Linked DNA regions of Homo sapiens: region 2 is linked to region 1. The links come from fine-mapping of genetic effects on gene expression. A gene starts in region 1. The other region holds a variant in brackets. All regions are shown on one strand. Distances are between the middles of the regions.

Region 1 (5,000 bases):
CACACCTGGATAATTTTTGTATTTTTTAGTAGAGACGGGGATTCTCCATGTTGGCCAGGCTGGTCTCGAACTCCTGGACTCAAGTGATCCACCCACCTTGGCCTCCCAAAGTGCTGGGATTACAGGCGTGAGCCATGGCACCCGGCCTAATTGTAACACTTTCATTATAATACAAAAACTGGCAACAAAGCAGGTGGACGTTGGAATGGGTTACCTTAAGAGGTAGTGAGCAAAGCACGGATGCAGCAGAGGAAATCCAAGCATCCTAGGAACTGGACAGGATGATTCTGCCTACTCTCTTGAGCAGCAATGATACTGGGAATGGGCTGAAGCCACATTGTGGGGGGCAGAGACACCCTGGGAGACAGAGAGCTCCCACCCTCACACCACCCCCCTGGGAATACCCTGGCTGGTGGGGAGCTCACACAGGGGAAGAGGGACATGACTCCTTAGCAGCCAAAGTGGAGTCGTAAGAGCAGAGCCCGTAAGTCAGAAACCCTGGGTTTAGGCCCTGGTTCTTGCCAGCAAATGATGTAACCTCTTTGGGCCTCCATTTCCCCATCTGTACATTGGAAGTGACATCTGGCAGCTCATTGTCAAGACTGAGTAAGATGCTAGACATGGGAGCCCCACACAGGAGATAAAGTGGTGACCCTATCTGAGACCCACAGGCTGTTCCCATTGGGCTGTCACAGTTCAGGGCAGTCAGTGACCCCCAACTTGGCAAGGATTCGGAACAGAGACATCCCGCAGGCAGAAGAGGCTGCCTGGAAGAGGGGAGCTGGTAAATGGGTTGGGTCACAGCAGAGATGAAACCACTGGACACGGCGTGGGGCAGACAGCCCGGGGACTCAGCCAGTCAGGCTCCTCAGCCCATCTAAGCCTATTTCCTCATCAGTAAAATAATACTTAACTCACAGGCCGAGGGAGACAGGTGAGCTACAGTATGCGGTCTATGGCCAGTACATTGTTTCTAAGTGAAAACGGACACAGTCCGCAGCTGCTCAGCCCGCATGTCCGCAGCAGCAGAAACGAGCCATCCCTCACCTCAGCCCAAGCGCTCAGACTTCTCCCTTCATCCAGGTCGTACCAAAAACTTCCTAACAAGGACTTTGCGCATGCTAGTGCTCAGAAACTTCTCACGACTCCCCAGTGCCTATGGGATAAAGACTGTGTCCTTAACCTGTCACCTAGGACAGGAACTAGGGTGAGACAAGCAAGGCCTCCAAGGCCCAACATTTGAGGCGGCACTCACGGTCACGGCAGTGCGCCTACCCCTAAGTTTTGCAATCTAGGTCCTCAACTCGAGTCCTAGACTTGCTGCAATTAAAGGCCCTTCACAATCAGTCTGCATCCTCCTGTCACTTTCTTTTACAGCCGGAAAGCTCCAGCACCACTAAACTCCTTGCCCTTCCCCACTGTTTCCCTGGATGGAACAGCCTGTCTTCCCTGGGTCCCCTACCAAGTCCTCTGAGACTCAGCTCAAGTGCCACTTCCTCCATGAAGCCCTCCAAGATGACCGCTCACTCCCACTTGGGCTCTGTCTCTCCTGATCCCTACAGGACCGTAAGCCTCTCCCACCTTCACCCTGCCTACCCCCTTACTGCCTGGCACAGCGCTGGGCATACCACAGGCGCTTAAAGAATGCCTGCTGAATGCAGTGAATGTTTCTGGTCAGTAAAACGGGACGAAGGTAGAATGGAGCTCTGCTCGCCCAACGAGATAAACCAAAAACTGAGAAGGGCTCCTCATTCATTCTCTGGACGGCAGCTTCCGCCCTTCCCCGCTGTCTCTTCCATTACATTCGCACATTCTTGGGTGCCCCAGGTCAAGCAGACAGCCTCCTGATAAATGACAGAATCAAGTCCTACTCAGGGCTGGAGGGACCCCGAGAACGCGGAGGTGGCGCCCGGAACTTGCGGATAAGTTGGGGGTCCGAGTGACGAGGTGTGTGTACCCACCGCCCTGGGGAGCTCTCCCAGCGCAGCGGCTGTCCCGGCGCCAGCCCGGGTCGCTGGAACGCGGGAAGGGAGGAAAACCCCAAACTTCGGGCGGGCGCTCCTCCCACCCGAGCAACGGCGAAGCGGGGAGGCCGAGCCCCGCTGGGCCCCAGGCTCCCCAGACAGAGAAGGAAACGCGGGGGCACCGCCGCCACGGTAGCGCGCCTCCAAGCCCCCCGCGCTCCGCTCCGCCCCGGCCAGCGCCGCACACGAGGTTCCCGCCCGGCAGCCCTAGGAGCGTCACGTGGCGGGTCCCGAGGCCCCAGCGCACAGGCGCCTAGCCCGCCCTCTCACCCCGGCGCGCGCCCACCTGGCCTGCAGGAAGGAGGCGCCCAGCTGCGCGCCTGGGCCGCCCGTCGCTCCCAGGTGCTGCCGCCTCCGCGTCGCCTCCATGGCTGCCCCGCAGGCCCCTCGGCCCTGCCTTTCCGAGGAAGAGACCGGTTCAGCTCGGCTGCCCCGGCGGAGGCCGCCGCAAATTCCCAGCGCGGGGCGGTTCGGGGCGGGCCGGCGAGAGCGCGCGGCCCTCGGGAGGAACAGGCGGGGCTGCGGACCCGGGGCGGGGCGGAGCGGAGCGGAGCGGAGCGGAGGGAGGCGGGGCGGAGGGAGACGGGGCGGGCTCCGCTAGGGGAGGGCCGGGCGCTGCGAGTGTGGCGTCCTCGCGGGGCGGGGGCTGCTGGCCTGTCCGGGCTGCGCGCGTGACCACCAGCGGGCTGGGATGTGTTAGGGTCCCTTGCCTGCCTGGGTACGGGAATCTCTGTCTAGGGTGACTGAGGCCTGGGTGTTGGGCTGGGGCGGGGTAGCGACCTGGAGATAGACTAAGCTGATTTAAATGCTCCCCGGGGCAGAGGGTTCTGTGGGATTTCCCTTGTTCTTACGGGTGGAGGAGAGGAGGCAGGACTGGAGACCTGCACGTGTAGCACCCGCGTGGTGCAGCACGTGGGTTGCAGATGTTCTAGTGAGGGGCTGGCGGTGACAGTGGGAAGGAGCGAGTTGGTGACATCTAGAGTCGTGTGAGAGGTATGGTGACTGGGACTCTGGATGTGGGGGGTGAGGGGAGAAGAGTTCAGGCAGTGGCCGGATTCTGCCCCTGGGTGGATAGTGGAGGCACCCCCCGGGAAGTGGGCTAGAGCAGATTTCGTGTAAATAAAGATTCATCTTTGAACGCATTAAGCTTGAGGTGGGTCAGGAAGGCTGTTGGACCGGTGGTCTGAAGCTGAGGCGAGACCTGGGAACCCAGTGGACAGGCTCGTGAGTCACCGGAGCATACAAGACAGACAGAACCTAAGGGGACAGCATCCTCAAGTGAAAAACAGAACCAAAGGTCAAACCTGAGAACAGCCTGCAGGGCAGATTGCCAGGACTTCATTAGTGGTACCACTTTGAACTAGCTGTGATGCGGGCAAATGGCTCAACCCCTCACAGCTTCAGTTTACTCATCTGTAACAAGAAGATGCCTATTGCATCTACTACATTGGAGTTGTGATGACTATATGAAACTCTTAGCAGAGAGCCCAGCACTGGTGGACTAAGTTATTTACAATAGCCCGTCTCGAGACCTGAGGTTTCCCTCCACAGAAAGGTTACCTTCCACACCACTGTCAATGTCACAAACTCTCTCCTCCCCACGGTCACTGTCAGCAGCCCAGGCCGCTAACTAGAACAACTGCAACCAACTCCCATTCTCCCCACCACCCCCGTGCTACACCAGGCGCACACGACATGTGCAGGTCTCCAGTCCTGTCTCCTCTCACCCAGCCCTCAAGCCGCTGCAGAAGGGATGTGCCTCTTGGAAGGGATGTGCCTCAGATGCAAATGCAATGTGCCATTCCCCTGCCCAGTATCCTTGGTCTGCTTCCCAGACCATGAGGGGTCTGAGCTATGCCTATTTCCATTCTATTTTCTTTCCTGTCTTTCTTCTTGGGAGATGTTTATTGGATTTATTTCTTTCCCCTTTGGTCAGAACCTGCATGTCCTTTCTTGGCTGTGGGAGGCTAGGACTGCCTGCCTGGGAGTCATTTTCCATCAGCCCCATCCTGGGCTCTAGCAGCCCACAGGCCACACCTCAATCCCCCCCCTCCGCCCCTGGTCCCCTGAAGAACACATTTGCTTTAAAGCTTTCCTTGTTTCATTTGATCCACACACACCAGGTCGTAAGGAGAACAGGTGATTGTCTCTGTTTTGTAGCAGAGAAAAACCTAGGCCCTGAGCTGAAGTACTGTGCCCAAGGGTCAGCCAAGGACAGCACTCAGACGGGGCCCCAGATTTAATTCTGGTGAATCTGATCTACACATCGATCTCGGTATACACCAGAGAAGAAGGATTGAGGCTTCCCGCTCTGACCCCAATTTCTTATCCTCTGCAGGCTTTGCAAGCCTGCTGGGCTCCAGAGGGAGGGGCATGCAGTGCCCATGATGTCATCATCGATTTAATAACACTCAGAGGTGGGCTTCCAGCCATCAGAGGATGAGGCCGTGTGGAGGGAGCCTCTCTAGCTCATTTAATCCTCCAATCTCTTAAATACAAACACATCTGCCTTTTTTCTGGAGTCCGCTGCTACCCCTTGAGGGGAGGGGAGTCCAACCTGGCAGGGGGCTGGGCCTTTCTGAATGAACAAGATGAGAATTCTCCCTGTCCGGTGGGATTATCAGCCCCCTCTCTTTCCCATCCCACCAGGACACTTTAAAAACACCATCTTCATTAGCTCTTTAAATTGCATGGAAATTTGGGGGAGGAGGATAGAGTAAAGCTGAGGGGTACACATTTGCAGGATCTTGTTTGTGATTATCTGAGAACATGGGCCCTGCACATCAGAAGGGAGTCTAGTCTCAGCTCTCTGAGCTGCAATTTCAGTGGCCAGCATCAAGAAATCTTTCAGCTGAGAAGGTCCTTTGGTATTATGCATCTTGGTGGTTTTGACTTTTCTTTTAGTAGAGGTTCCCACTACTTTTCAATTATAGCTGTATCCGATATTTTTTTTTTTTTTTGAGACGGAGTCTTGCT
Region 2 (5,513 bases), 24 kb before region 1:
AATGAGCGGAGATCATGCCATTGCACAGAGCAAGACTCTGTCTCAAATAAATAAATTCCATCTAGCCACTTGATTACCACAAATGAGTTTTGCCAACTTTTTTTTTTTTTTTTTTTGAGAGAGTTTTGCTCTTGTTGCCCAGGCTAGAGTGCAATGGCACAATTTCAGCTCACTGCAGCCTCCACCTCCCAGGTTCAAGTGATTCTCCTGCCTCAGCCTCCCAAGAAGCTGGGATTATAGGCATGTGCCACCATGACCGGCTTTTTTTTTTTTTTTTTTTTTTTTGAGACAGAGTCTCGCTCTTGTTGCCCAGGCTGGAGTGTAGTGGCTCAATCTCGGTTCACTGCAACCTCCGCCTCCTGGGTTCAAGTGATTCTCCTGCCTCAGCCTCCTGAGTAGCTGGAATTACAGGTGCCTGCCAGCACACCAGGCTAATTTTTGTACTTTTAGTAGAGATAGGGTTTCACCATGTTGGCCAGGCTGGTCTCAAACTCCTGACCTCAGGTGATCTGCCTCCCTCGGTCTCTCAAAGTGCTGGGATTACAGGCATGAGCCAACTGCACCTGGCCAGTTTTGTATTTTTAGTAGAGATGGGGTTTCACCATGTTGGCCAGGCTGGTTTCAAACCCCTGACATCAGGTGATCCACATGCCTCGGCCTCCCAAAGTGCTGGGATTACAGACGTGAGCCACTGCACTCAGCCCAAGTTTTGCCAACTCTTATATCCATTGCCAACCTATAGTTTCGATTCAACCATGATTTGACAAATGAAGCTGCGCGCCAATGAGTGCGATTCTTTTTCCAATGAATGAATGGTCATTAAACCTGATGTGATCTACTGTTAAACTATTTCTCACCCTTTTACCAAACACATTCATTAAATTGAAACTTCTTTCAAATCTCCATCTCCACTGATCACAATAGGGCTGTCTTTTTAACTTTTTGTACAGATAGATGTAGGGATTGAAACACTGTTTGATCCTACATTATTTAATAATGGCTGGCTTTAACATCCTGCTTGCAAAATTCCTAAAACTATGGCTCTTGCTAGCTGTAGTGAGCCAGCCCCAGCCCACATGTGGGTGACACCTGGCTATGCCTGGCCCAGCGTCCAGCATGTAACTGACATTATTCCCCTCTGTCCGTGGCTCGCAGCAGCCTGGTAAGGTGGCATATCCTACTTCATAGGTGAGAAAACCGAGGCTCAAGGGTGATTAGGCTTCAGGTCTGCTGCCTCCAAAGCCCCTGTTCTTCCCACTTCGCTAGGCCACCCCATCCAGTCTTTCACACACTCATTAAACACTGGTGGCCACTTTCTTGGTGTCAGATACTGGGATACAAAGACAATTTACCTTCTTCCCTTCTGGGAGCTTTGGCTATCCCAGGAGGGAGGGTCAGTGAGCCTCAAAACCAGGCATGGGTGGGAGGATGCTGAGGCTGAAGGCTGGACTCCAGCCCTCAGTCCACCATTCATTATCACCGTTAGACCTGGACAAGAGGGCACTGCCCCGGGCCCTGTGTTTTAAAAGTCCCTGCTCCTGCCCTGGCCCTCCTCTTGGGATAAAGAGTTCCAGGGTTCTACGTGGAGGTGCCCACCTGGAGCTCACAATTCCTGCCCCTCTGGACCAAGCTCAGAATACCCAGAACTCTGGAACTCCTGCCCAGGTAACCCTAACCCCACTTGGCTGGGCTCTCAGGACCCTACCCTGGATCACAAGGGCCCAAGGTGCCTGTAATTTTATCTCCAGTGGTCAGCGAAGGACTCACTGAGAAGGCGATGTTTCAGCAAAGACCTGGAGGAATGGGATGCCTCGGGGGACTCTCAGGCCCATTGACGTCCACTGTTGGGACAGGTTTCAGGGTCACAACCTCAAGCAGCAGCTGGCTGTGCCTCCTGGGCCTCTCCTGCCAGGTGCAGGGGGGCTGCAGCCATGAGGCTCCCCTGGCTCAGGTCTGGGCCCCCAAGTTCTTTGTAACGCAACTCTTTGCTCTTGGCCTTCTGGAAATAGAACCCTGCACGGTGTGAAACTGAAGCCTGGTCGAGGGCTGGCAGAGTAGGGGACCCAGGGAATAAAGTGCTCACGCCCAAACCAGGCTTGATGCCAGGGCAAAGGGGGCTCAGTGGACCCTCCATTTTACAGATAGGGAGACTGAGGCGCAGAGAGTAGACGCATCCTGCCAGAGAGTGCAGACCTGGCCTCTGTTCTGTCTCAATTACAAAGCCCCTCCTCTTTCCCTGCTGCCAGCCATACCTTTAATGGTCTCTCTCTCCATCCCCAGTCCCCTCAGTCCCCAAATCCAACTGGTCAGGTTCTGGAGGGAAACCTAGTAAGTTCTGTCTTAGCGCCCTGGCTTGTAAGTCACACTGACAAGTATAAAGCCACATGTCTATTTTGGAGGCTTACCCCCAACCCCCACCCCGCCAACAGCAGCCTCCCCGCAGCTCTTGGCCCTGGGTGGGCCCAGCTCTCCCACAGCCACCTTCCTTCCCACCAAGAAAACATGAGCAGAGCAAATTGCCTAATGAGACCCATATTTTGCTGAGTTGCTAATCAAAGAACAAACCCAACCTACCATTAATTTGGTCTTGGGAAAGAAACTTGGCCTGCAGCAGAGAAAGGAAAACAGTCAGGGGAGGGCTCCACCTGAGGTTCACGCCCCCAGCCCTGGCCAGGCCGACACAGACCCTCACACTCACCATTCTGGGGCCTCGGCTGCTACCCGTGGGCTTGCTGCTCCCAGAACCGCGTTCAGTTCCCTTTCCTCCAGCCTCAAGTCTAAAGTCTGCCAAGCTGGGTGGAGGCCCGGGTAATAAATGCTCGGCTGCCATGGAGACTGGGCCCGACGCCACCAGGGTCAGATTCCAGCTTCCTGAGCACAGCTCATGACCCGCCACCTGGGCAGGTTGGATTTTTGAGGAAATGGGGCTGCAGAAGGCTCTCCCTGGGCTCAGAGTCTCTGCCTCCAGAAGCCGAAGCAAAGGGACAAATGCCAGTGTTTCTTCCCGGGAGCCCTGGACTCCAGGAAGGGGTCTTCTCTCTCTCTCCTGGGACTCGGCGGGGATGCCATCAGGCCCCTACTAGAGTTGGACACTTTACACCCCGGGTCGTATTGAAGGCTCCTCACACACCATCTTGTAGGAGGAAGGGAACCCTTCCAAGACGGCCTAACTCAGAGATGGGCACCGGGGCTCGCAGGCTTGGGGCTCGGTATTGCAGGGATACAAGCTTCGGTGCTCTCAGGCTGGGATTCAGTCCTCCCCGTCTGCTGACTTGCTGAGTGACTGGCGAATCATTCTACCTCAGTCTGTGCCTCAGTTTCCTCACCAGCTGAATTACAGGGCAGCTGGCAAAATCAAGTGGCCAGCGCACAGCCGGTTCCCATCCTGTGCCAGTTCAGTTCCCACCTTCTGAGGACTTTAAGGGTGGTGGAGGGGCCTGAGCCGGGTCTCCAGCCCCACCACAGGCTCCTCGGGGGCTTGGAGTGAGGCCTCTTAGTGCCGGTTACCCTGGCCAGGAAGGCTCCCCTTTTCTTCCTTCCCTTCCTCTCTCCACCCTCAGCCCCACCCCTTCCGCAGAAGCTGCTGACGCTCCCAA[G/A]TCTTCAGGAGTTCGTGCTGCTCCCCTCCCCCACATAGGAGGAAATGGGGGCAGGGTGTGAGGCCTCCCCAGCTTCTTCCCCTTGAGATCCCATTTCCCTGTTTGGGGCGTGAGGCTTTTGTCCACAGCTGAGTCTATGAGGCTCTACAAGTAGGTGTGGCTGCACAGGTGTGCCCTACACAAAGGCCCCCAGCCCAGGTGCGAGTGGTTGCTGGCCAGGGGCTGCACTGCCAATAGGAAGGGGGGCATTGTGCCACTTTGCACACAGGCGCATAGACGGGAGGCGCTGCCTGTGCCCCACTCTCCCCTCCCCGCTCCTTTCCTGACCGCCTCTGTGTGGAAAGTGTGCTTTTCTCCCAAATCACATCCCCAGAATCGCTTTACACCTGTTTCTAGACCCAGAGAATTTTAGCTGGGGACTCCGACTCCTCCCTGTCAGAGTTTGAGGCTCCCCCTCCCAAACCCCATGGCAGGGATAAGAGGAGGGAAGGCTGCCTCTGTGCAGAGGATGGAGAGAAGGACATCAAGGAAAGTCACTTGGGACTCTGGAAGCCTGAAGGCGGCCAGGCCAACATGCTCCCTCTGAATCCCCTTGCCTGTGGGAAGGGGCTCCAGAAGAGATGAGGTGCCTCCTTGGAGTTAGGCCAGTGTGTGCTGGGGTGCCCCGGCCAACTCCCTCCTTATGTGTGTAGGTGTCTCCGGGGGTGACGCACAGATGGAAAACACCAGCGTGGGGCAATGGCTGCGTGAGGGTTCACGATACAGCAACTCACCATGCTGTAGGGCGCACCGTGTGTGCTACACCTCAGCACGAAAGGGAGAAAAGACAAAAAACACCTCTAACACCACTTGGGGCTGTGACTGTATTTACTTCATTCTTGAATCCCGCGTCCCCGTGGCTGGGGGCTGACACATCCCTGGGCACCACTGTGACTTCCTGTGGGTCCCTTCCCTTCTGTCCCTGACTCTGTAGACCCCCCACAGGAAGGGTCCTAGGTAGGGGGAGGTTCCTCCTCCCTTGAAACCCTGGGCCACTCTGTCAAGGCAAAGCCTCTGGGCCCAGCACCTTGTAAAGGCTTTGATGAGAGGAGCTCTGGCTTTTGCTCAGGGCCTTTGGCACCCCACCCTCCAGCCCCCAGGAATGCAGGCGCTCAAAGCCTGTGGCTAGGCTGCCCGAAGCGCGTGCCGCAGTTCTTCTGGAGTGGGAGCAGGGGGACAGAGCTTTGGGTAGAGGAGGGTCACCTGCAAAGCTGGAATGCCAGGGGAGTGGGCGGTGCCTCCAGCTCCTGGGGGCCAGGGTGTCTCCATACCTCATGGGCCTGAGCCTGGGCAGGGGTCTGGAGTGCACATAGCCCCCAGGCAGGGAGAGGGCAGTGACAGGACAGAGCCACTCATCTGTCCCAAAGCTGCACCCAAGGGGTGTCAGCAACCCCAACCTACTGACCTACTTTGGGACCACAGGCCCATCTAGTGCAAATGAGGCCCAGAAAGGAGAAATGCTTTGCTCAACAGCCACAGTAGGCTGACGTAACCTATGTAATGTAGGGTCAGGGTGGGCCTGAGGGATGAGCCAGGTGGTGGGCAGGTGACACACCAGGTCCCCTCCTGGCCTCTGCCCCACCCAGCCCTCTCCTGCACGGCTACCAGAAGATGTCCGGGAAGAACAGACTAGCCCTGAGTAGGGAGTGTGGTCAGGTGCAGAGGAGGGCAGGGGCCCGGATCCTGGCCCAGAAACACTCTAAAACAGAATCCGATCCTGAGATGATCCAAATCAAACAGAAACTTGACGGAAATAGTAGAGTCTGAAAATGATGCACTCTGCGCACACATATACAAGACACACACACACACACACACGAATCCACGCACACGAGGCACACCCCACTCATGCTCTCGGTCTCTGGTTACACACCCACA

The links.
Region 2: its variant is fine-mapped to the expression of CLN6 in whole blood (INTERVAL, PIP above 0.99).

Annotation. Positions count from the first base shown.
Region 1 is chr15:68,227,192-68,232,191 of GRCh38, forward strand. It overlaps CLN6 (CLN6 transmembrane ER protein), which reads right to left and starts at 2,537. Exons shown (of 7, transcript NM_017882.3): 1 at 2,311-2,537. The coding sequence starts at 2,393. RefSeq lists enhancers at 1,822-1,891, 1,922-2,001, 3,232-3,281 and silencers at 2,042-2,631, 2,401-2,580.
Region 2 is chr15:68,202,547-68,208,059 of GRCh38, forward strand. CALML4 (calmodulin like 4) reads right to left here and starts at 2,786. Exons shown (of 5, transcript NM_033429.3): 1 at 2,699-2,786; 2 at 2,575-2,605. The coding sequence starts at 2,701. It overlaps CLN6 (CLN6 transmembrane ER protein), which reads right to left. Exons shown (of 7, transcript NM_017882.3): 7 at 4,446-5,513. RefSeq lists an enhancer at 3,485-3,779. The variant G/A (reference allele first, on the strand shown) is at 3,597.